Linked DNA regions of Homo sapiens. The protein of the gene in region 2 interacts with the protein of the main gene of each other region in a biochemical or structural test. Each region holds a gene or a part of one and is shown on either strand. Other genes may lie near its edges.

What was found.
Region 1: the proteins of FLII (region 2) and TRAIP form a complex in vitro, tested with the Homo sapiens proteins (one study listed by BioGRID).
Region 3: the proteins of FLII (region 2) and CARM1 form a complex in vitro, tested with the Homo sapiens proteins (one study listed by BioGRID).
Region 4: the proteins of FLII (region 2) and GRIP1 form a complex in vitro, tested with the Homo sapiens proteins (one study listed by BioGRID).

The regions. Positions count from the first base shown.
Region 1 is NC_000003.12:49,828,083-49,832,578, reverse strand, and holds the end of TRAIP (E3 ubiquitin-protein ligase TRAIP), read left to right. Parts: intron 1-510; coding exon 511-663; intron 664-2,510; coding exon 2,511-2,559; intron 2,560-2,812; coding exon 2,813-2,962; intron 2,963-3,070; coding exon 3,071-3,121; intron 3,122-3,353; coding exon 3,354-3,476; 3' UTR 3,477-3,978; downstream 3,979-4,496. UniProt on the Homo sapiens protein: E3 ubiquitin ligase required to protect genome stability in response to replication stress.
Region 2 is NC_000017.11:18,248,735-18,255,766, forward strand, and holds part of FLII (protein flightless-1 homolog), read right to left. Parts: intron 6,530-7,032; coding exon 6,449-6,529; intron 6,121-6,448; coding exon 6,035-6,120; intron 5,949-6,034; coding exon 5,787-5,948; intron 5,449-5,786; coding exon 5,345-5,448; intron 4,986-5,344; coding exon 4,810-4,985; intron 4,725-4,809; coding exon 4,567-4,724; intron 3,823-4,566; coding exon 3,738-3,822; intron 3,413-3,737; coding exon 3,265-3,412; intron 3,083-3,264; coding exon 2,946-3,082; intron 2,744-2,945; coding exon 2,531-2,743; intron 2,284-2,530; coding exon 2,104-2,283; intron 675-2,103; coding exon 592-674; intron 468-591; coding exon 393-467; intron 150-392; coding exon 66-149; intron 1-65. UniProt on the Homo sapiens protein: Is a regulator of actin polymerization, required for proper myofibril organization and regulation of the length of sarcomeric thin filaments. It also plays a role in the assembly of cardiomyocyte cell adhesion complexes.
Region 3 is NC_000019.10:10,909,535-10,916,566, forward strand, and holds part of CARM1 (histone-arginine methyltransferase CARM1), read left to right. Parts: intron 1-2,649; coding exon 2,650-2,760; intron 2,761-4,342; coding exon 4,343-4,520; intron 4,521-6,872; coding exon 6,873-6,963; intron 6,964-7,032. UniProt on the Homo sapiens protein: Methylates (mono- and asymmetric dimethylation) the guanidino nitrogens of arginyl residues in several proteins involved in DNA packaging, transcription regulation, pre-mRNA splicing, and mRNA stability.
Region 4 is NC_000012.12:66,669,057-66,676,088, forward strand, and holds part of GRIP1 (glutamate receptor-interacting protein 1), read right to left. Parts: intron 1-7,032. UniProt on the Homo sapiens protein: May play a role as a localized scaffold for the assembly of a multiprotein signaling complex and as mediator of the trafficking of its binding partners at specific subcellular location in neurons.

The DNA.
Region 1 (4,496 bases), on a different chromosome or scaffold from region 2:
GGGTGCCAAATCATGTAATTGCACTATACATGGAGTTTTGTGTGCTTTTTAAATTAAATTAAATTTAAACTTTTTTTTTTTTTTTTCCTGAGACGGAGTCTTGCTCTGTCGCCCAGGCTGGAGTGCAGTGGCGCGATCTCGGCTCACCGCAAGCTCTGCCTCCCGAGTTCAAGCAATTCTCCTGCCTCAGCCTCCCGAGTAGCTGGGACTACAGACACAAGCCACCACACCCAGCTAATTTTTGTATTTTTAGTAGGATGGGGTTTCACCATGTTAGCCCGGGTGGTCTTGATCTCTTGACCGCTTGATCCACCCGCCTTGGCCTCCCAAAGTGCTGGGATTACAGGCGTGAGCCACTGTGCCTGGCCGAGAGTAGGGCTCTCTTGAGGGGTGGCCTTGAGTCAGGAGTGGGCTCCAGGTCCCTGGAGCTGAGTTATCTCTGATGCTTCAGGAGCTGTTGTCCTGGGTTACCACTGTGGCCCCAAGTAACCAGGTCATCTCTGCCTTCAGCCCAGCCCCTGTGGAGGTGAATCTGAAGCTCCGCCGGCCATCCTTCCGTGATGATATTGATCTCAATGCTACCTTTGATGTGGATACTCCCCCAGCCCGGCCCTCCAGCTCCCAGCATGGTTACTACGAAAAACTTTGCCTAGAGAAGTCACAGTGAGTGATAGTCGCTGGCACTGTCCATGGGCTGGTAGGGGGATAGCTAAGACAGCTCTGCAGGCCCTGTGCTGTTAGCTCTGAGTGGCTGATGGGGCAGTGAGGGTTGCCTAGGCTTGGCCATGGCTTTGGTTCCAGCTACCTCTTGTTCCCTCACCTGAGCACTCAATCTGTGCAAACCCCTTCTCTTTTCTCATTATTCCTCACCATCACCTTTCAAGGCAAACGTATTGGAATGCAAGTTAGAGAGAATGCAGTGATGCCAGAAGGGGTGGGTCTGGGCTGGAGAGGGTGCTCCCAATACCTTGAAGGCCTGCCCACCAGAGTCCTGAGCGAGGGACTCTGAACTTCCTCTTCTATGTTTGCCTCTGAGGCTCATGCCTGAGGGAGGATCATCTCAAACCACAGAGCCCAAGGCCTTACCACCCAAGGGGGTGACCCACAGGGGCAAGCATGAGAAGCTGTCTGGAATTCCAGTGGGGCAGGTGGAACCTGCTCTGGGGTACGGTGGGACCAGAAAAAGGGAGGCTGTCTCCTTGGCCAGCTTTGCCAAGTGTAATTCACTGTGGAGACAAGGACTATACTCATTCATACAGGTACTGTTCAGGTGAGGCTGGTCAAGGGCTGGGCAGGTTTCCTCTTTTTCAAAGACTTTGTACAGAGAGAAAGAAGAGAAAGAGAAAGAAACTGAGATGCTAGACAGTGGAGGTGGAAGGGAGCAAGAGGGCAAGCCAGCTGGGCTGTCCTACCTCCCAAACCTCAGGGGGCATGGGCACCCCTGTTGTAGAGGGCGAGGCCTGGTAGCAATGAGAAACAAACCTAGGACCCGTGGGCTGTAGTCCTCAGGGATCCTGTCAGTGTCTGCTGTGTACTCTGGCTTCCTCCCATTGCCCTTCTTCCGCTGTAAAGGTTGAAGGTGGACACCTGGGGTCTTCAGGCTGCCAGGCCTTTCAGAGACATTTCCACCACCTTCATGGCCTGTGGAGGTAGTGAAGGAGGTAGTGAAGTTCTGAGTCCCTAACTCAGCTCGTCCTTCCTGGAGCCTTGGTTGTCATGTAGCCTTACCACAGGCCGTTAGGGCAGGAGCAGAGGAGTCAGTCATCAGGCCCTGATCCCACTCTTGTCCTTATGGCTTGAGAAGCCACAGGGCCAGCCTTAGATCACCATCTTCTCACCCACCAGGGAAAATGCCAGGAGAGGGTATCCAGCTGCTGGGTTCCCCAGGAATTGGATGGAAATACAGTTTCTGGCTCTGGGGCTGGGATTGGGAGACCAGGGCCTGGGGCCATGCGCTATTCTGCCCCAGGCCCTTCTTAGACACACTCTCTAGGGAGATGGCTTGGCCCTGTGTTCTGAGAGGATTTTGTGGGCTACTTTACTGAAAGGCTAACTTACTGAGGCTCTCGTGGAGGTAGTGTCCCCTCTCTGGGAAGACAGGACTAGGCCTGAGCTCATTAAATTTCTTTTGCTCGTATCAGGGCATGACTGGCTTTCCTCCCGTGGGTGGTGAGTTGATTGGGCTCTTCAGCCCCATATAGAGCCTGGGACATGGTGAGGTGCCCGAGGACTTGAGGAGCGTTGGAATTTGGCCTTGAGTGGAAGCCACAGGATTGGGACATGGTCCAGTCATCCCCAGTCATCCCTGTCTCTGCCACCCTACTGGCTGTGGCTGTCCAGCTGTTAACAGACCTGCACTTGGGGTGGGATCACTGAGGTGCCTTGCCCAGAATGCAGGCATGGCAGCAGCAGTGCCACATGGTAACTCCCCAAGGGGCGTGTGCTGAGCCTGGTTCACCTGCCCCCATGTCTTGCTTACCTACCCCTTGCCTTCTCTCTCATTCTTGTAGCTCCCCAATTCAGGATGTCCCCAAGAAGATATGCAAAGGCCCCAGGAAGGTAAGAGCTTTCTAGAAGAAGCACAGTCTAACCTTTGGCAGGACTGGACTTTTGGGAGGGCACGGTCTTGCCAGAGCCTTGTCACTCCTGGTCCAGGACTGAGGTACTTCGGAGCCACCCTTGGGATTCTACTCATTATCCCTCCTGCCTCCTAGTGAGGCATCAGAGATCCTGATCTTGTTCCACCACCACTACCCTCCCTCCTTTGCTGACATCCAGCTCATCAAGTCTGGCCCTGGGGTCTTCCCTGCAGGAGTCCCAGCTCTCACTGGGTGGCCAGAGCTGTGCAGGAGAGCCAGATGAGGAACTGGTTGGTGCCTTCCCTATTTTTGTCCGGAATGCCATCCTAGGCCAGAAACAGCCCAAGAGGCCCAGGTCAGAGTCCTCTTGCAGCAAAGATGTGGTGAGTGTGGCTTCCCACAGTGGCAGGAGCCAGCCCTCTTGGGTAGAAATGGGTGGCCAGCCCCCCAGCCCATTAGCCTGGCCCACTCATCTCTTCCTTCCACCCTAGGTAAGGACAGGCTTCGATGGGCTCGGTGGCCGGACAAAATTCATCCAGCCTGTATCCTTTTCCTGTGATGTTGAGCTGAGCTGAACTGTGGAGCCCATACTATGCCTCACCTATACCCCCAGCCTGCCAGTGCCAACAGCCTCAGGTGTGCAGTGCTGGGCCTCATTCTGTGTATCAGCGCCGCCCACCCCCGGCTCTGAGCCTTTCTTGCCCTGCATTGCAGTCCTTTCTCGCCCTGCATTGCAGTCCTTTCTCCATGCCTCTTCCTTGACAGCTCCTCCAGACTGACACAGTCATGATCCGCCCATTGCCTGTTAAGCCCAAGACCAAGGTTAAGCAGAGGGTGAGGGTGAAGACAGTGCCTTCTCTCTTCCAGGCCAAGCTGGACACCTTCCTGTGGTCGTGAGAACAGTGAGTCTGACCAATGGCCAGACACATGCCTGCAACTTGTAGGTCAAGGACTGTCCAGGCAGGGGTTTTGTGGACAGAGCCCCACTTTCGGGACCAGCCTGAGGTGTAAGGGCAGACAAACAGGTGAGGGTGAGTGTGGCACCCAGAGACTGCTCTTCCTGCCCTCACCCTGCCCCACTCCTACGACTGGGAGCTGACATGACCAGCCCACTGATCCTGTCAGCAGGTCCTGCTCCTGTTGCCAGGCTCCTGTTTATAGCCATGATCAGATGTGGTCAGACTCTTTCTGGGCCTGGAGACCACGGTCACTTGTTGACTGTCTCTGTGGACCAGAGTGCTTGAGGCATCTCAGGCAGCCTCAGCCCAAGCTTCTACCTGCCTTTGACTTGCTTCTAGGCATAGCCTGGGCCAAGCAGGGTGGGGAATGGAGGATAGCATGGGATGTATGGAGAGGATGGAAGATTTTCATGTAAAATAAAATTAAAAAAAAAAAACAATCTCTTCTTCCTGGTTCTGAGAGTGTAAATTTGCACCAACACTTTAGAAAACTGTTTGGCATGACTTTCTAAAGCAGGAACATCGCCAAGCCTCAGATCCAGCAGTTCCTTCCCTAGGCATATGCCTTCTCATGGGGCACAGGAAGACTCTAGAAAGAATGAGATCACTGCAGCTTTTCTCACAGTCTCTAACCTGGGCACAGCCTAAAGGCCATAAGTAGGAAAGTGAACGAGTAAATGGAAATCTATCTATACAGTGTACTCACAGCAAATAACCAGCGACCACTACCTTCCGTTCCTACCCACGTTTAAACGCTACCAGCCAAATTGCTAGCTTTTGACTTTTGGCTGCAAAGGCACTTTCTTTCTTTTCTTTCTTTTTCTTTCTTTCTTTTTTTTTTTTTTCTTTTTGCAACAGGGTCTCCCTCTGTCTCCCAGGCTGGAGTGCAGTGGCACAATCACAGTTCACTGCAGCCTCAACCTCCCAGGCTCAGGTGATCCTCCCACCTCAGCCTCCT
Region 2 (7,032 bases):
GCAAAGTCATCAGCGAGGCTCACACCCCTTTCCTTCACACAAAAGACCCCACGGTGTCCTTGTACCTGGCCTTGGTGGTGCTGCTCAGTGTGGCCTGGGCCCCCCGCCATACGTAGATGTCTAGCCCTCGGTCCAGCAGGAAAACAAACCTGGACAAGAAGGGGCAGGAAGGAGCTGTGATGGTGCATGGGGCAATGGTCACCCCATGCTCCTGACCCCACCAAAAAAAATCCCTCACTATGGGGTTTCTGGGTAAGCCCCAGGGACCCCCCGCCAAGCTCGTGGGCAGGAATTGCTAGAGGGCCTCCTCTTCTAAGAGGCCCACACCTGCCCCCACTGGTGGGGAGGAGGCTGAGGATGAAGCACCCCCACCTCACATTGTTGGGGCTCACCTTGGGTCCAGAGAGGTCCCCTTGAGGGGCACAGGCTCCAACTTGATGTTCTTTTTCCCATACACACGATACATCCTGGGCGCAGGGCAAGAGTGGCTCAGTGTAGGCACCAAGGGCCTAACTTAGCCCCAACACCCTCCCCTCCACCCCTTGCCAGCAGACTCCAGGTCCATACCCCCCACTGCCCACACACCCTCACCTGGTGACATAGTGTGTGTCTTCCACAGTGTAGAAGCCACTGGCTGTTCCACCCTCAATGTAGGAGATGTCGTTGTCAAACACCTGTGTGTGTGAGGGTGTGGTTCTTCATCACTGAGCTGCCCCCTCCCCCACCAACCACTGCCCCTCAGGTGGGGGTACAGAGTTGCATACAGGTGAATTGAGTGCTACAAATCTATGATGCCTGTAATCCCAGCACTTCAGGAGTCTGAGGTGGGTGGATCACCTGAGGTCAGGAGTTGGAGACCAGCCTGACCAACATGGAGAAACCCTGTCTCTACTAAAAATACATAAATTAGCCAGGCGTGGTGGTGCATGCCTGTAATCCCAGCTACTCGGGAGGCTGAGGCAGGAGAATTGTTTGAACCTGGGAGGCGGAGGTTGCAGTGAGCTGAGATTGTGCCATTGTACTCCAGCCTGGGCAACAACAGCAAAACTCTGTCTTAAAACAAACAAACAAACAAACAAACAACAACAAAAAAAACAGATCTGGCTGGGCACGGTGGCTCATGCCTGTAATCTTAGTACTTTGGGAGGCCAAGGCGGGTGGATCACCTAAGGTCAGGAGTTCGAGACCAGCCTGGCCAACATGGCAAAACCCCATCACTACTAAAAAAATACAAAAATTAGCTAGGCGTGGTAGCACATGCCTGTAATCCCAGCTACTTGGGAGGCTGAGGCAGGAGAATCGCTTGAACCCTGGGGGCGGAGGTTGCAGTGAGCCAAGATTGTGCCACTGCACTCCAGCCTGGGCAACAAAGCGAGAGTCTGTCTAAAATAAAACATACACATCTGTGTCTATAAACATACACACGTCGGGGTGTTGGGATGTATGAAAAATATGGACACGTTCACCCACGTTTGTAAAGATGCCAGCAGCATGTTTAGATGCACGCATATCAGGGTACACAAGCAAGTGGGTTCATGGAAGAGTGGAAACCTGGGTGAATGTGGGTAAAAAAAACTCGGGGCGGGTGGGGTGTGTGCATAAACTCCACGTGTGTGTACATGCGAACATATGTCTAGGTGTAACCAGCTGGCGGCTAACACTGCTCAGTAATTTATTCAAGACTGGACTCTGGTCCCGCCCTTGGCCCCACCTCCTTGGCATCCAGGTGTGTCCTTGCCTCCTAATAACAGGTTTTGGCCCTGCCTTCTCACTGCTCTTGGCAACACCCCTTCCACCCTACTCTCAGCTCCCCTGTGTCAGCCCACTGGTCTAGCTCCCATGCCCAGCCTGTACCCTTATCCTTGCCCGGCTGAATTCTGCCCCGCGTTCCAGAACTCTCCTTTGCTGACCCAGGCTTTGGCCACCTTAGACCTCACCCTGCGGTCTGCCTTAGGTCCCGCACAGTATCGTTGATCCACCCCCTTTAACCCCAGCTCCCTGCCTGCCCACCTGTTCTGCCTACCTGCCTTGGGCCCACTGCCCCTGCACCAGAGTTCCCTGGGAACCCCACTCTGCCCACCCCCAATTTTAACGGGCTGGCACCTGCAGGAACTCCTCGCTCTCATCGCCCATCTCCTCCCGGACAGTGCGGCACTCAGCACCCAGGTAGTTGCGCAAGTTGACAGCGTGGATGGCAGAGCAAGCTTTCTTGTCGAGTGTGGCCTCCCCGCCAATCCAGTAGTAGATCTCCCAGTTGAGGGAGCCGCTGTCATCCAGAAAGGTCTGGAAGCCAAGGCACCGGCCACATCAGCTTTCATCCTGGTCTTCCGGCCACCCCGGAGACGCCACTCTGAACAGCACAGGCTTCCCAGCCCCAGGGGCTTTGTACTGCCCCTGTGCCTGGACCACCTCCTGCAGCCTGCCCACCTCCCACCTGGCCTCCCTGAACAAAACTCTGGAGTTGGGGACTGAGCCATCTTAGAGGAAGGTACTGGGCCACATGGCCCCTAACAGCATGCCCAGCCCTCACCTTGAGCACAATGTAGCAGTCAGCCTCGTAGAACTTGCCGTGGAAGGCTTCCTCCACCAGCACAGGCACGAAGTTCTCTATCTGCCAGATGGTCAGTCCGGGCAGCTGGCCCACGTCCTCCGTGAAGAACTCGGAGTAGTCAAGGCGGGGCTTCTCCAGGCCCTGGTCCCAACGCCGCACCTTCCCGCTGGGGGCCCGGGCATCTGCGCTCTCCTGGGGGCAGAGTCACAGAGCACGGCTTGACTCTGTGAAGCCACTCAGGCCAGTCTTTACTTGCTACCCACACCTCAGGGCCTTTGCACAGCTGTTCTTTCTGCCCAGCACCCCCCGTCCCTCTTGGCCAGGGTCAAGGCCAGGGTCGGCCTTCAGCAGAAGCTAAGGCTCCCTGCCTTGTCCCAACCCTGGCCTGGCTCACCTCCTGCTTTTTGTTCTTCTCCTGGGCAACATCTGACATGCCCTTCAGCACCTGCTTGGCCTGGTCATCCTGGGCTGAATCCTTGCGCCTCCGCAGTCGCATCTTGCGAGCCATAGGGTCCTTGGGCCCACTCCCTGCTTAGGGGAGGGGCAAACAGCTGAGCCCTCACTGGGCCTGCTGCCCCCTTGGGCATGCGACCAACCAGGGGCCAACTCCACCCACCAGGGTCCAGAAAGCTGTATGCCACCCAATTTACAGATGTGTCATTTGAGGCCTGGAGAGGAGCCCCCGTTCCCAGGCCAGACCTTTCCCCACTCACCAGCTGCAGCTGCAGCCACGGTAGCAGGAGAGGCACCCGCTAGCCGCAGCTGGTTCTGCAGCGAGAAGTCGATGTTGTACCACTCAGCGGCACGGTCTGCGGGCTTGGGCGGCATGACCAGGTTGGGGTTCTCCCGCACATCCAGGACCTGCCCCATAGGGTGAGCAGAGCCGGCACTGAGCCTGGGTCCTACCTCCCAGACACACCAATCCAGTTTCTTGCTCTTGTCTGCAGCCGCCAGGGCTGAGAGGTCAGGGAACTGGGTTCTCCTCCCACCCACCTCTGGGGCTGGCTGGGGGCTTAAATGAGACTGTGGAATGTACTCTGGATGCAGGGAGGTGGGGCCCACCTTCTCCCCACGGGCACCCTGGCACTGGCCACCTCCCTCAGGAGGCCTCTGCTGGGTCCCCCTTGCTCCAGGGCACACCCCTTGCTTGTCTCTCTTGAGCCCTCTCAAACCCAGCATGCCTGACCTCGATCTCCGTCAGGAAATGGATGGCTTCTGGGAGGGTCACCAGGTGGTTCTTGTTCAGGACAAGTTTCCTCAGCTTTGGGCACCTGTGAAGACAGGGCCAGCCAGGGCCTCAGGCAGGTGACAGACAAGGGGAAGTGGGCAAGAAAACCCCTAGTCCTGGGGAGGGGAGGCAGGTAGGGTCAGAGGAACTGGCGGGGGTCTCCATTCTCTGCCTGAAGGACTTCTCAGAGCCAAGAGACCATGTTACGGGCACTGTGATCTCCAGAAGGGGAGAGAAGCAACACTGCGTTCCCACGTCATGTGGCCTTGTCCCTAACAGTGCCCCCCGAAGGGTGCTCTCAGGGGCTCAAGTTGGGAATGGCTGGCATGGGACTGTGGTCTTCATCCACAAAGGTGAGTTAACTGGGCCGGGCGTGGTGGCTCACACCTGTAATCCCAGCACTTTGGGAGGCTGATCATTTGAGGACAGGCATTCAAGACCAGCCTGGCCAACATGGTGAGACCCCATCTCTACTAAAAATACAAAAAGAGCCGGGCGTGGTAGCGCACGCCTATAATCCCAGCTACTCAGGAGGCTGAGGCAGGAGATTCGCTTGAACCTGGGAGACAGAGGCTGCAGTCAGCCGAGATTGCACCACTACATTCCAGCCCAGGCGACAGAGCGAGACTCTGTCTCAAAAACAAAAAAGAAAAGAAAAGAAAAGAAAAGGTGAATTAACCCATCTTCATTTTGTCTGACTTGCACAGACCACAAGGTGGGCTCTGACTACGATCCCGGGGTTCTCTGTGCTGCAAGTGCCTCTGCTAGCCCCAGCCCTGCCCAGCACCTGCAGAGACTTTCAGGGACCAGCTCCAGGTTGTTGTTGGCAGCCATGAACTCTTCCAGGTTGGTGAGCTTGCCAATGCCTGAGGGCAGCCCGTCAAAGTCCAGCTTGTTGGAATTCAGGTACAGCTTCTTCAGCTTGCTCAGCTTGCAAATGGCTGACTGGAGGGGGAACGGGCAGGGGTGGGAGGTCAGGGCCAGGCTCACGGCCTTCCTCCCATCCCCCTACTGAGGGCCTCAGACGCACGGGCAGTGAGGTGAGCTGATTTCGGGACAGGTTCAGAGTTTCCACGTGCACCCACTGGTCTATGCACAGGGACAGCTCCGTGATCTGGTTGCTGCTGAGGTTGAGGCGGCGCAGGCTGGGGAGGGTGTACAGACACTCGGGCACCCGTGTCAGGTCATTGCAGGACAGATCCACGTCTGGGGTGCAGGGTGGGGTGCATCAGCTGGGGCCCATACACCAGGTGCCAGGGCAGCCAGCCCTAGTGTGAACCCCAGCTCTGCCACCTCTGAGCTGTGTGGCTTAGGCAAGTGACAACTGCTGTGCGCCCAAGTTTCTCCATTTGGACAAACTCCCTCACATGGGGGTTGCGGGGGAGTTTTCTAGGCATAAAGTCAGTGTTAAGGCATCATCATAATCGCAAAAGTCACTGTAACATAACTCCAGCCTTTTCCCTCTGGGTATTGGTCCGAAGAGCAGGGTTCAACCCCTTCCACCCAAGGAAGCAAGAGGGCCCAGAGGGGGCCCGAGCTCAGAGGGGCTCCTGGGGCTGCCTGACCTGCGAGGTTGCTCAGACCCTCCAGGCTGGTGGGCAGGTTGCTCTGGGTGCGCTGGGTGCTCCGCAGGTGCAGGGTCTGCAGGGCCGTCATCGCTGGGAGCTGCCTGCCAGGGTGACGTGAGTGGTCAGGGCCAGGGCCCACCTAGGGAGTGTTAAGGGTGGGGCTTGGCAGGGCAGGACCAAAAGCACAGGGCCCAGAGGGTAGGTGTGAGGTCACATCTGGTTGAAGGGACAAGCCCAAGGGTGGTTGCGGGGTGTGTAAGCGGGAAGACAGGACTGAGAGGTGGACATGATACTTAGGAGGTTGTACACTGAGGGGTGCTGCCTGCACGGAGGGATGGCTGGGCCTAAGGGAGAAGGGTTAGGGCCCTGGGAAGTGAAGGGGCCCGGCCAGACTCCTCAGGGTGGCTTCTGCAGGAGTGCGGTCCGAGGGGGCGCCCACCGGAGCTGTGCATGCAGCAGGGGGTTTCCATTGAGCACGAGCGTCTGCAGGTGCACCAGGCGGCGCATCTGCGGGGGCAGGCTCTCCAGGCGGTTCTCGCTGAGGTCCAGGTATAGTAGGTCAGTGAGGTTGATGAAGAGCTGGTTGGGGATGGTGTCGATGCTACGGGTGGGGAGCAGGAGCCACCTGAGTCAGCACCAGCCACCCCACAGGGCCCACCTGCCCCCTGCCCCCCACTGGCCTGGCACCTGTTGTGGCTGAGGTTCAGCACCAGCATGTTCTTGGCGTTCTCCAGCTCCCGCGGGCACTCTGTCAGCTGGTTGTGGCTCAAGTCCTGGGTAGAAGGGGCAAGACCCAGGTCAGGGGAGTCTCCTCCCCACCAGGCGTCTGCCAAGCTTGGGGATCAGGCAGGGCACTGAGTTGGGTGTGGGGGTAGATGAGGGGGCTTCAGGGCCAAAGGGAGACAGCCAGGGACTTGGGAGGAAGAGTGCCTGTGTTAGGGATCTGACTCCAAAAGTGACCTCAGGCAAGGTATTATCCACTCCAAGACTCAGTTTTCCCATCTGCAAAATGGGATAACAATGGCCCCAGGGACTTTTATAGTGAGTGGGGATTGAATGGTCCGGCTAGCACAGGGGCCAGGTGAGTGGGTAGCCACTGACCAGGACTGAGAGATCATCTAGCTTGAAGATGTCATCGGGGACTCCGGAATTCTTCAGACTGTTGGCTCGGGCCACGATGGCCTGGGAATAAACCATAAGAGTCTATAATTCCTGGCTTCCACTCTCAGGAAGGAACAGAGTCTAGAGAGGGACACCTCCTCAGGCAGCTCACCAGAGGCCAGGCCTGAGGACTCTCTCACCTCTGGCCTTTGATCAAATAGCTCCCTCTCCTGGAGCGCTCTTCCTAGCCTCCCAGTGAGCTCCTATTCATGCCTCAAAGCCCAGCTCAAATGTGCCCCGGAGCCCCAGCACAGGGCCCTCAGGGAACCTTTTCTGTTCAAACCATTTCTCTTCTTCTTAATTCCAGAAGGTGAGATAGGGGTAAGGTCTGAGTCAGGGTTTTCAGAACAGAGGGAGAGAAGTGGACCACAGAGAAATCAGAATCTGGATGGAGAGGAAGTCTGCTTTCTCTCCCTAACTTAAGACTGACACCTCCTCATACCTTACAGACATGCAGAAAGCTTGAGCATGAGGGAACAGGGCCAGAGAATGGTGTCGTGACTCCAAGTGACAACGGGAGTCAC
Region 3 (7,032 bases), on a different chromosome or scaffold from region 2:
ACCATCCTGGCTAACACGATGAAACCCCGTCTCTACTAAAAAATACAAAAAAATTAGTTGGGCGTGGTGGTGGGCGCCTGTAGTCCCAGCTACTCAGGAGGCTGAGGCAGGTGAATGGCATGAACGCAGGAGGCAGAGCTTGCAGTGAGCTGAGATCGCGCCACTGCACTGCAGCCTGGGCAACAGAGTGAGACTCCATCTCAAAAAACAAACAAACAAACAAAAAAAACAAAAAGCAAGAAAAACAAATGCATTTGATATATAAACTCAACACAGCATGTACATTATAGGCTTGAGAGGCCTCTATCAGTTCCCTCCAAGATAGCCGCTACCCCTCAGTATGAGGTCTCTTCTTCAAGATTTTTCCCCATACAGACATCAGCGTATATTTTACAATTATTTTATTGAGCTGGGCAGAGTAGCTCACACCTGTCTGTAATCCCAGCACTTTGGGAGGCCAAGGCAGGGGGATCATTTGAGCCCAGGAAGTTGAAACTGCGGTGAGCTGTGATTGGGGTACTGCTCTCCAGGCTGAGCCAAAGTGCGAGACCCTGCCTCAAAAACAAAATAAATAAGCTTTTTGATATCACCAAATAATGTGCACTCATGATTAAAGAGAGAGAGAACAGAGCAGAACGTCTGTATTCAAAAGTAGAAATCGGCCAGGCACAGTGGCTCACACCTGTAATCCCAGCACTTTGGGAGGCTGAGGCAGGTGGATCACTTGAGGTTAGCAGTTCGAGACCACCCTGGCCAACATGGCAAAAGCCCATTTCTACTAAAATAAAATACAAAAATTAGCTGGGCGTGGTGGCAGGCACCTGTAGTCCCAGCTACTCAGGAGGCTGAGGCAGGAGAATCACTTGAACCTGGGAGGCGGAGGTTGCAGTGAGCCGAGATTGTGCCACTGCACTCCAGCCTGGGCAAGAGAGCAAGACTCCGTCTTAAAAAAAAAAAGTAGAAATGTATAATGTATTCCCTTCTCATCCCATTTGCCAGAGTTTTTGGTGTCTACCTTTTTTATTTTTTTATTTTTACTTTTTTTTTTATGAGATGGAGTCTTGCTTTGTTACCAGGCTGGAGTGCAGTGACACAATCTCGGCTCACTGCAACCTCCGCCTCCCGGGTTCAAGCAATTCTCCTGCCTCAGCCTCCTGAGTAGCTGGGACTACAGGCGCACACCACCAAGCCCAGCAGATTTTTGTATTTTTGGTAGAGACAGGGTTTCACCATGTTGGCCAGGATGGTCTAGATCTCTTGACCTCATGATCCACCCACCTCAGCCTCCCAAAGTGCTTGGATTACAGGCATGAGCCACTGCACCCGGCTTACTCAGAATTTTTGTTTTCTCTTTCTGTTTTTGGGGGGTTTTTTGAGACAGATTCTCACTCTGTCACCCAGGCTGGAATGCAGTGGCACAATCTCAGCTCACTGCAGCCTCTGCCTCCTGGGTTCAAGCGATTTTTGTGCCTCAGCCGGCCAAGTAGCTGGGATTACAGTCATGTGCCACCATGCCCGGCTAATTTTTGTATTTTTAGTAGAGATGGGGTTCTGCCATGTTGCCCAGGCTGGTCTCAAACTTCTGGCCTCAAGCAGTTCATCCGCCTCAGCCTCCCAAAGTGCTGAGATTACAGGTGTGAGCCGCCGCACCTGGCCTGTTTTCTCTTTTGAATCAAATGGGAGCCTGTTTTTTTCCTCCAAGTATTTTGGGGATCTCTCCACGTGGATCTGCATGGATCTGCCTCATCCAGCGCCTGGGTCACGCCCCCCTAGCATCGCTTACCGTCCCAGAGGATGGTAGGCCTTGGGCCCTGGGGAGGAGTTGTCTTGACACAAGAGTGTCTGCCCTGGCAGGGCCATCCCGAGCCTCCTCCTGGCCACTGAGGTCTGGGAAGGACGTCCTCCGTTGGTGAAGTCCCTTCCTGCTCCCCAAGGATGGAGATCCATTTCCTGGTTCATCTGGAGCTCTGATCAGTACCCTGAGGCCTTCCCACCTGACCCCAGCTTCCCCTGCAGGCACTCACCATGCCCAGAGCATTTGTCCTTCAAAAGCTCATGCCTGTCACCACCAGGAATGTCTGTCCTTGGTCTGCTCGTGTGGAAGCAATCCCACAAATCCAGAACAGGTGGTGTGTTCTCCCAGACCCTGGCCTGGACTCTGCCATGAGTGACCACCACGGGCCAGTAGCCCTGCGGGGAGCCCAGCCGGCCCCAGGGCTTGGGCGGCTCACCTGCCCCAGCCAAGACGGGCTGCTTCTCCAGGCATGAGTCAGCATGGAGCTGGGAGACACTGCCACCAACAACTCGGGCCCCTTTCCTCCATGCTAGAACTGCGGAGGCCCCGGAAAAATGCTTTTCAACTGCCAGTGAGCTTCCAGGGGAGGCCCGTGCCACTCACCCCAGACGATCCGGAGGCCTGCAGGCCACAGGGTTGGGGCCGAGCGGGAGCTTCCCCAGGGCTTCTCCTCCCGGAGGACTGGCCCATGGCTCATCTTGAGTTCTCGCTTCATTTTGACCAAGAGCCCATAAAGGGCAAACATTGAGAGTGAAGACAGACGCCTCATGATGTGCACATCCCTTATGATCACTGTCACCTCCCCATCACCGTCGCCTCCTATGTCTCGCTCTCACCTCCCACTCCTCCCTCAGATCGTTCTTGATGTTGGCTGTGGCTCTGGGATCCTGTCGTTTTTTGCCGCCCAAGCTGGAGCACGGAAAATCTACGCGGTGGAGGCCAGCACCATGGCCCAGCACGCTGAGGTCAGTGGCCCGCTGGTGCCCACCCAGCCTCGTCCTCGCCCATGAGTGCCATGCCGGCCCCAGCCTAGAGAAGCTTGGGAACCCCCAGGGGCCTGGGGACATTACTTCTGTGCTTTGGTCTCTTTATTGTCCCCAAGACAGTCATTTCAGGGAGGGGCTTCAGGGCCTGAGATGATTTTCTCTCATGGCCGGTAGTCAGGGCCACATGTCATTTCCCTGTTTTCTTTTTTTTTTTTTTGCACTGAAACCTTCATTCACAAAGTTCAAAACATAAAAGCTAAAAAAGAGCAGACAGCGTGCTCTCCTTCCCCACCCCAGCTCCCACCCCCAGCCCCATCATGAGAGAGGAGCTACGGCCACAAAGTCTGAGCAGAGCTATTCCGTGAGCGTCCTCTCGCACCAGTGGAGGCTGCACCCTCCATTCCCTGCTCTGCCTCTCCCATGGATCTGGGGTCGCCGGGGTCGTGGAGGGGCCATCTTTGTTCTGTCTTGCCGCCGCAGAGCACCCCTGTGCCCAGCCGTGCCGCTGTTGCTTTAGCTGCATTGTGTCCGCAGCGACACTCAGACTCCTTCCAGGTCTTCACGTGGCCAACGCTGCTGTCCTGAGCCCCTCTCCCACATGCGGTTGTGTCTGTAGGACACACCCTAGCCCTGGAATCGCTGGGTTGGGGGTGCATCCAGCTTTAGCTTTGGTGGCTGTTGTGATGTCTGCTCGTCCCCCTCTTTGCAGCCACCAGCAGTTGTCGACGCAGGGTGGGGGACCTAGGAGGCCGCAGCAGGGGACGGCCCTGAGGCAGGGCCGGGGTCACAGTGAACTCTCTTTTTTTTTGGGGGGGGTCTCACTCTGTTGCTCAGGCTTGAGTGCAGTGGTGCGATCCTGGCTCATTGCAACCTCCACCTCCCGGGTTCAAGTGATTCTCCTGTCTCAGGCTCCTGAATAGCTGGGATCCACCACTGCAACTGGCTAATTTTTGTATTTTTAGGCCAGGCATGGTGGCTCACACCTGTAATCCCAGCACTTTGGGAGGCTTAGGTGGGCGGATCACCTGAGGTCAAGAGTTCGAGACCAGCCTGACCAACGTGGCAAAACCCCATTAGCCAGGCGTGGTGGTGGGTGCCTGTAGTCCCAGCTACTCGGGAGGCTGAGGTGGGAGAATCGCTAGAACCCGGGAGGCAGAGGTTGCAGTGAGCCGAGATGGCGCCACTACCACCTCCAGCCTGGGCAACAGAGTGAGAATCTGTCTCAAAGAAAAAAAAAATAGTTTTTTTTTTTTGGTATTTTTAGTAGAGACAGGGTTTCTCCATGTTGGTCAGGCTAGTCTCCCAACTTATGAGGTCAAGCAGTCCGCCTGCCTCGGCCTCCCAAAGTGCTGGGATTACAGGCATGAGGCACCGTGCCCGGCCCACAGTGAGCTCTTAACAGGCTATGGCCAATCGCAGCCATGGTTGGGGCGCCAGCGAAGCAGGCAGAGGGGCACCCAATGCCCATGTGTGGATGGAGGCTGTCCCTTGAGAGCAGGTCTAGGGAGGGCCCCATGGCAGGAAGACGCAGGGAAGCCCACATGGCCCTGCCCGCCTGCAGGTCTTGGTGAAGAGTAACAACCTGACGGACCGCATCGTGGTCATCCCGGGCAAGGTGGAGGAGGTGTCACTCCCCGAGCAGGTGGACATCATCATCTCGGAGCCCATGGGCTACATGCTCTTCAACGAGCGCATGCTGGAGAGCTACCTCCACGCCAAGAAGTACCTGAAGCCCAGCGGTGAGCACTGGGGGGTACACAGGCCAGGCCCCTCGGTGGAGGCCCTGGCTGCCGCTGAGCCAGGCCATCAGTGCTTCAGCTCCCTGCTTACTGTCGGTGGCCCGGGGTGTAGGGAAGCCTGGGCTTTTCCCCCGCTCCCACCCCAACCCCACTCCAGCCAGCTGTGGCTTTTGGAGCCCTGGGCCCCAAACACGGCCAGACACCCAGCTGCCCACTCGCCCAGACAGGGTACACAGGATCTCCTGGCACCTCTGCCGTCCCATGTCCTGCTCCTGCGGGACAGCCTCTGGCTGGGAGTGGGGATTGGGACAGGTTCTGTGGTCAGCAGTTCCCCAACAAGCCCTGCTCTCCTCACAGTCCAGGAGGTGGGGTGGGCGAGCATGTGTGCAAATGCAGGGGTGTGGGTGCGAGTGTACGTGTGTGAGGAGGTGAGGTAGCTGTCTGGCAAGCCCATCTGTCACTTCCCATCCGTGCCTCTGGGTATGGCCTCTGGTCACTGGGTGACTGTTTCTTTTTTTGAGACAGAGTTTCACTCTTGTTGCCAAGGCTGGAGTGCAGTGGTGCGATCTCGGCTCACTGCAACCTGCACCTCCCCAGTTCAAGCAATTTTTGTGCTTCAGCCTCCTGAGTAGCTGGGATTACAGGTGTGCACCACCACGCCCAGCTAAGTTTTGTATTTTTAGTAGAGATGGGGTTTCACCGTGTTGGTCAGGCTGGTCACGAACTCCTGACCTCAGGTGATCTACCCGCCTCAGCCTCCCAAAGTGTTGGGATTATAGGCATGAGCCACTGTGCCTGGCCTGGGTGACTGTTTCTATTTGCCCATCTGTCTTGGGGTCTGTGCAGCCCTGACGCCTGAGGCATGTGCCTGTGGCTCTTCTCATGCTAGGTATGTGAGCGTCTGAGCATTTCTGTACAGGCAAGCAGCTGTGTGTGCGTGTGGCAGGGTACAGGTCCCCAGCCAGGGTAGCAGCCATGGGATGGAGCGTGGGCAGCAGCAGGCTGGTGGGGCTTGTGCAGGCAGGGGCAGGGGGGAAGCTTCCACTCTCATCTCTGGCCCGCCCTGGATCCAGGCCCTAGGGTCCTGGCTGGCTGTGCTCCTGGAGGTGGGAGGTGGCGTCCCACAGCTGTGTCTCATGTCTTGGGTGTGAGTATGGGAAGCAAGGCTGCTCCAGGGGCTGTGGGCCCCACTCTCCTCCCCTTCTGCCCTGATGGTGGGGATGGGGGTGGGGACAGCCCCAGCAGAGAGGGCCCCTCCCGATGGGACATGAAGCCAGATGGCAGTCAGGCTCTGTGGGCAGCTGCATGTGCCCCCGACGTCCCAGCAGCCAGCTTGCAGGGAGGGGGGAGGCCAGGCCTGTGCAAGGAGGACTCCTGTCCAGCTCAGGAAGCTCTTCCAGGGGTTAAAGGCAGCCCTCCCCTCTCCCAGTCACATGTCTTCTGGTCAGCAGGAGCCAGAGGTTCCTTCCAGGCTGGGTCACTTCCCATGGTGCCCCCAGGTCCCCCAGGGCAGAAGCCGCAGCATGTGCATCTCCCTCCCCGTTCCAGCAGCTGCAGCCCTGCAGCTCTCGCCTCGGGTACAGCCTGGTGGCGTAAGGAGGAGGCAGAGTCCCACTGATACCTCAGGATCTCCTCCCCCAGCTTGCAAGGCTGGGGGGCCCACATCTGGAGGCCAGGTGCTCCTTGGGGCAGGCGGGGCTGCGGGGCCCTGATCCTCCCTGCCACTGGCCCTGACTCATGCGTCTACCCTTGAGTCACAGAGGGAGGCCCTGCCCTTCCCTCAGTCTGTGTGCCCAGACCAGGCAGGCCAAGTGGCCCATCCTGCCGGCTGGGTGCCTGTGCCAGAACCTAGGCAGTCCCTGTGGTGTGGATTTGGCTTCCCCCACCTGGCTCTTGGCCTCAACTGAGGTCCCCAGCGGCGTTGGGGTAGCCCGGGGCCCACCACCCTCCCTCTGTCCAGAGCAACTTTGCTATGCTTTCCCGGCTGCACACATGCACAGACGGCAGGGCCTGAGAGGCAGCGCCTGGCCACATCCCGGGCACTGCCTGCTTCCCCGTGAGTCTTTGGCAGGTCCCTCACACCTGCCAGGTCTAGTAATAGGACATAAAGATGAGCCACCAGCCTCCCAGTCTCAGGTGGAATTCGTGAGCTGGTGCAGGTCAGGTACCCGTGGTGGTGATGAAACACTGATCAGAATAGGCGCTCGGTGCCACTGTCACAGGAGTGCAGGAACGAATGGATGACAGGCTGGGAGCACCCAGGGTTGGGGGTCTTGGGGTCCTTTGGAAGCTCTGCCAGGCAGTGTGGGATGTGTCACCTGACGCCAGCACCCCTCCCTGCCCCACTCCCAGGAAACATGTTTCCTACCATTGGTGACGTCCACCTTGCACCCTTCACGGATGAACAGCTCTACATGGAGCAGTTCACCAAGGCCAACTTCTGGTGAGTGTGCCCTGGGTGTCCCGCCTGGGCCCCACAGCCTGCCTTCTCAGGGACAGCCCCAGCTCCCCA
Region 4 (7,032 bases), on a different chromosome or scaffold from region 2:
CTGAAACACTCCAAGCCCAAAACAAATGTGTGGGATTGGTTAAGCCCGGAGATCTTTAAAAATTGACATCATTTGGCCAGGCATGGTGGCTCACACCTGTAATCCCAGCACTTTGGGAGGCCAAGGTGGGCAGATCACTTGGGGTCAGGAGTTTGAGACCAGCCGGGCCAAAATACAACAAATTAGCCAGGTGTGGTGATGGGTGCCTGTAATCCCAGCTACTCGGGAGGCTGAGGCAAGAGAATCACTTGAACCCAGGAGGCGGAGGCTGCAGTGAGCTGAGATCGTGCCACTGCACTGCAGCCTGGGTGACAGAGTGAGACTCTGTCTCAATAAATAAATAAATAAATAAATAAATATTAACATTATCCATTCGACAGATACTTATTGGGCATTTTCTTTGTACCAAATACTTTGTACTTGCCAGTGACATAATGGTAAGTAAAGCATGGATACTAATTTTCAAGGAATTCATAGTCTGATGGTTGTATACAGATAAACAAAGAATTATCATCAAATGTAGAAAGCATAATGAAAGCCATCTATACAGGTTTATGAATACACAGAGCAGGAGTACCTATTCAGTGGTGTGCTGGTAAATGTTTAACAAGTGGCTTTGTCGGGGCATGCCTTGATTTATAGCATCCATCAATGTCTCTGGTGTAAATACTCCCACTATGGCCAATTTCAGTCTACCAACTTGATGTCATTGAATGTGGAGTTGCTAAGAGATGTGTGGCACACCATTATAGAGTAGCTCTCCCACATAGATAGAGTAGACTTCAAGAGCACAGAACATAAAATGTAGTAATGATTAGAAAATGATGAATTGTTAGTATTCATTACCTCCGTTTTTAATATCATTTAATTGCAAATTTATATAATTTTAAATGATTGTGTTTACAAGCTAGTTCAAAAAATTCTTTAACATTTAACAATTGGCTCCATAGAAGATGACTTTAACCAATGAAGTCTACTCTTCATTGTGGGCTAGGGCAACAGACTTTCTGCACCATACAAATGAGGGTGAACTCCTTTGCATGAGTAGCTATGTCCATTAGCATTGAAAGAAGACAAGTAACAGAAGAGAAGAGGGAGCAATGAGAAGAGCTGAGATGCTCAGAACATTGCACCGCATACAACCAAAGCAGAAAACTTTATAACCCTGCCTTTCAACTATTTTCTCCATATAATAACCTTCCGCATAAGGGGAGAAGAAAGGGAGAGATCAGTTAGCCCTTAGGTCCCTAAATAGTAAGGACAAAAAATCACATGAAAATTACAATATTCATTTCCATCCCCATGGAACATTCCTTCCAGTCTATGCTGATGTGGACTGCCAAGGAGGGCAGACTTGAAGACTTAACAAAATGATCCACTGGAAATCCTACGTTAGCAGTGGCGCTCATAACTTCATACAGGACTGCAGGCTCAGATTTGCAGGGGTGTTCACACAGTTCTGTGGAATGAGAGCAACTCAGGAGTGGACTCAGCAAATGGTTGAGTCAACTGTCATTTTTAAACTATGTCTTCAAAACTCTCACCAAAATGTATACACACAAATGCGTTATAACCTGTATCAGGCCTCTTTTGATTGCAAATAACAGAAAGACCTGGCTCTAATGGGCTTAGGTGTTAAAGACATTTAATGGCTAACTTAACTGAAGAAGTCTAAGGGAGAGCTCAGAGCTCCCTTAAGGTAGTTCTTGAGCAGGGGCTGAAGTGATGACAGTCAGATATGGTGTCTCTTTCTTTTGGATCCACTGCCATTTTCAGACAGGCTCTGCCCTCAAAGTCACAGGAAGGCTATAGCAGTTTCATAGCCCTTATATCTGCTCAGCTTCTCCCTTCTAGCAGCTGAGTAAAATTCCTGGGCTTGTCTCTGGCTGAAACATATCTAGTAGCATCTCTATGAAGCTGCCAGTACGTTAGGTCCATGGCTCCCAAACTCAGCTAACACAGTAAAGTCACCTGGGGAATGTGTTAAAATGCCAAAGAACAGGCCACACTTCCAGGCAATTAAATCACAATCTCTGGGGTTGGATCCAGGCAACATTATTTTCTTAAGGTTACAAGGTAATTCCAATGGAGAGAAAAATTTAGAAACCCCTGAATTGGGTGCTCATAAAAATAGGAGATTTTAGACTCATCTTCTGATTTACTAAGAAAGTCAAGTTTGATTAATTTCCTTAATGTCCACCTCAAAGTCTTTCTTCCTATGCTTTCCTGTCTCTGTGACAAGAGTGTCCCTCTTGCTCACTCTAGCTGGCTGCCATCTGTCTCGTGGTCTCACACTCACACTGTCTTGCCTGGTTCTAGAGTTCATCCCTCTTCTAGTTTGCATCTTGAAATTTTACCTCCCTACTGGTTCTATCCTTTTAAAAAATGCTCAGATTTCTCCCATCCTATAATAGCCTTCCTTATCCCCCATGACCCCGCCCTCCACCCCCACAGGCTGCTGCCCATCTACAGCCTAACTTTCACCTTCAGACTTCTTAAAAGAGTGGTCTGCCCTTGTTGCCTTTAATGCAGAGAATCCTTATAATCTGGTTTGGACATCAATACCCTGTGAAAACTGTTCTCTCAAAGGTCAGCAATGACCCACTTACAAAACAGAAGGGCTGCTTCTCGCCTCTCCTTCTCTCATCTTTGCTTTGGTTTTTAGATATTACGGTATCCAAACGCTATTTCTCCCACTGTTTTTCTCTCTGCCACCTCTATTAGCTTAAGAAAGCCTTGGGGAAAATGTGTGGGACGTGTATCCTAAACACATTTCTCAGACAATATGTATCAGAAGACTTGAAAGTGAAGATACATGAAGGCAACAATTTAAAGCACAAAATAAATTCTTTAAAGACAATTCAGTATCATGTATTAGACTGAAAACTGGGAAACAAACTAAAGATATATTATCCACATAAGGAAATACTACAGAGACAGTAACAGTTTCCTATGACAAGTGTGTGCTAATGTGCACAAATGGGCAGAATATTAGGAAGAAGATGTAAGACAAAACATGTATTATACATATAATTTCAACTTATTAAAAAGCATAATAATTTGTAAATCAATTTGTTTTCCTCCATTGGTTTCCATTATTATGATGACAACATATCTTTAGTGATATTTAGTTTTACCTTTTCTCCTAATTCATCTGTTTTGAAAATGAATAGAAATTTCCTTAGTACAAATGTAACTTATTGTATTCTTCATATATTCAGCTATTTAATAATGTAGTTGGAATTATTAGTAAGAAGCTCTTTCTCACTTTCTAATACCCCGAGCTTTGCCTGAATTTAGGTGGTCATCATTGACTGAGACATCCAAGACCACTGCTTTTATTGCTTTTTGTAATGGCAAGGTCAAAGTTTCCTTGGTTTGAAGGGTGCAGTAACATCCTTTAAGGAGCTACATGTAATAAATATCTGGGTGCATTTTTTTTTTGGATATATGCGATACTGAAACAAATAATTATTTTAAAAATCTGCAAATAAGATTTTCTTCTGTATATTTAATAAAGCAGCAGTTACTAATTTTAAATTTAACATAATTCTCATGTATATGGGCAAAAAAGTGGTAAGAAACTAAAAGAGAGAAAAAGATGAGTTTCAAACACTGACGGCTTGCCTATCCCTAGAAACTATGTATTTTGCCTCCTCTCAAATAGTGGGAAGTTATCAAATTATATATTTTCCGCCAGAATAAAGTGAATTTACTAATATAAGAATTTCAAATAAATCAACTGTAGTAGAAAATTAAATCATTTTGTTATAGCTAACATGAGTATAAAACAGTTTTCACAAGTAATTTTTAATTTACAGATTAAGAAACTGAAATTTAGTGGGGGAAATTCAGTTTTTTTGTTTGTTTGTTTTTGCCACACAAGTAAAAATAGGAAAGCTAGGAAAGGTTGACATATCTTCTAATTTCTAAGTCTATTCTATTTCCCCTACCATAAGGAATGCTGAGAGATTAGTGTGGTGTTGTCTTGATTAATTTCTCTTTATTATTCTAGATAGGCAGGTCTATGGTTTCTATCCGTTTCTAGAAGAGAAAAAAAATGGCAAAAATGAAACACTGGGGTTCCTCCTGTCCTCCACTTGTGATCTTAGGAATGATTCTTAACTTCTCTGAACCTCTTCTTTTTCATCTGTATGGTGGGGATAATGACGATAATATTGCAAGATTTAAATGAGTTAGTACATGTAAAATGTTTAGAATAGTACCTGGCAGAAAGTAAGTGCTCAATAAATGTTAGCTATCCTTATTTCCATTCTTCCTCCTAAACATTTCCCAAAAGTATATAAGTTAATCGATTAGAATGCCTATCCTACATTGGCCCTCCTTTTCCCAGTAATGAACCAGATATTTCTTCCTAACCTGCTACAATCATATAAGAAGGGTGTAGACTCCTTCTTGTTTATATGGGGTCATACAAGGCATAGCCAAAATTTCCTCTGGAGGATGGGTACCTCCTGGAACGAGGTAAAGTATTTCTAGCATCCAATTCCCATTTGGAAGACAGGGGAGAAATAAATGCGCCATTATGATAATTCTAACTAGTTATATAAACGAAAAGCTTCAGTCCAGTGGAGAGTAAAGCGGTCCAAGCCACTGTTCAATGTAAACTCCCTCAAAGCATGGGCTAGAAGCACAGCAAGAAATCCATCACAATCTGGACCACGAGCAGCACTTGCGCGAGAACAAGACCTGCCTGGGACCCAGCTGCAGCATTCTCCTGTTCAAGTGGGGTCTCTCTATTTGCAAGAGAAATATGCCCCATGCCCTAGCAATAGATGAAACTCCAATAAAACAAGACAGACTTACTTTGTGAAATATCTATTAAGTGCATATTATTTTAAAAAGTTGATAGGCTAGAAAGATAAATACGTTAAATGCACTAGCTTTGATGGCATGAAATGAAGGGGTGGAGGCAAAGCAGAAAGGACATGGTTGCAGGTGAGATTTGGAAAGGGGTGGAAAGTTAACGAGGTGGAGGATACAGTTAAGTTGTTCCAGATGGCAGGATCTGACAGAGAAGGCCAGCGAGGGTTAGCAGAATGGATGAGGATGGGGAGACAGGAGAAATGAGGTCCAGCACAGAGAGAGAGAGCATTCTCAACCCAGATGATGATCAGTTCTGAATCATATCACAGAGTGGATGAGGAATCATTAGAGAAGACTGCTGAAGGAACCACAAGGCTAGACACAGACAGATGGGAAAGAGCAAAGTGACCAGAACAGAAAATCCAAGGCCACCAGCAAAGGAGCCATCAGGTTTGGAACACTGATACTGAACTCTGTGATGGATTCAGAATTCCTTGGATTAAAAGATTCTGCAGATGAGAAAAGATGGGAAATATTTTTCCTCTTCCATTAAGACAAAACATTTAAATGTGTTTCTTTAATTAAGATTACACTTAGGAAATGAGTTTCTAAATAGAAGAACTTTTAAACACAGGATGAGTGTCAGAGTTTAAAGGGATTTAGACGTCACCTGAGTAATCCATTAAAAGTTTATCAGACAAACTGTGAGATTGTTCTTGTCAGAGAGAATTGAGAATAAGATTACTGGTTGTCTGAGATGGTTGAGTTTCAGTTCTCTCTGGAAACAAGTCCTAGACGAATGTCTGACCTTCCCTTTCAAGCATAATGATTCCATGATTGGGGTAAGTGTAAGGAACAATGACTGAAAAAATGAGAGTGAGTGTGATCACAACCCAGCCTTTTAATCTTGCTCAGTGCCAGTGGAGAGAGCAATACCCATACATGCCCAGACAGCAGAAAAGGAGAAAAGATACTGAGGTTGGGAGGAGAAATCAGGAAGAAGAGAGGGAGAGAGAAAGAAAGTAGAATGCACAGCAGGGAGCAGTTCCCTGCCAGCCACAGATGTCTCACTTAGACACCCCATTGGGATGAAGGTCAACGGGGCTGCTTATAGTTTGTTAGTGGGAAAGGGACAGGGAGAGTTAATTCTATTTTAGGCCATATGTGTATTTGGGAAGAGAGAGAAAGTGAAGATAAGTAGAAAATAAAATGACACGTAGGCCAGCTATGATGAAAAATGTTGAAGTCTATACTAAAGTGAAGGCAAAGGTTTCCGACATGAGCTTTGAGCCAGTAGAGAAAAGACAGAGAGAGAGGGTGGGTGGCAGCAAAACAATGAAAGGTGCCCAGAGCCGTGCTCCCTGTGGAATGTCAGTAAATATTAATTGGCTGATGTTGGCATTGGTAGGCAGAGTGAAGCTTGTGAAAGAAAAATGCCATTGCCAGTGGAGCACGAAAGTTCAGATCTCGGAGCTCAAAATGGCAGCACCTGAGCAAGCAGCAGAGTCACATCCCATATCACCAGAGAAAGTGATTCTCTGCATATGAGGCCAAACTGTCTCAAGGAAAAGTAATCACACAATCATGACAAGAGAAAAAGAACAAAGTCTGTGGGAGCCATGAAAATATCTCCCCTTCTCTGAGAACATACTCCCTTCCCCTGAGGTATGGTAGCCCCTAGCTGAGAAACCAGGGCTGTCCCAGGTAAACAGCTGTGAAGGTAGGTGCCAAGAAGCCTAGATTTACCCACTCCAGAAAACCCTTTTGTCAGATGTCTCTGGAAACCTCACAAAATGTTATTTTGGGATTTGGCTCTAAGGTTGGGTAATTGGTAGACTCTCATTCTGGAGGAAGAAAAGAACGGCATTGCTTCTTTAGATTTCAATATTAGATGGGAAACGGAATGCTTTTGACGGTGCTTGGTGTTTTCATGAACCAAAGTTCCTCTCATAATGGCAGGCATGGGCCTTTTGGGTAAAGGTTATTTTCTTGCTCTTGTTCTACATTGGTAGGTACCTGATAAGGCAAAATGATTGAAACAGTGGCTTGAAACATTAATAAGAAAATGACTCAATTCCCAAGTCAGAGAAGTGCTAAGTTTACCTGAAATATATTCTACTATAATACTGTGGATCAGTGTCTATGTGGAGTGATCCAAGGACTTGTCTAGAAATACATGTTTTATACATCTTTTAAAATTACATC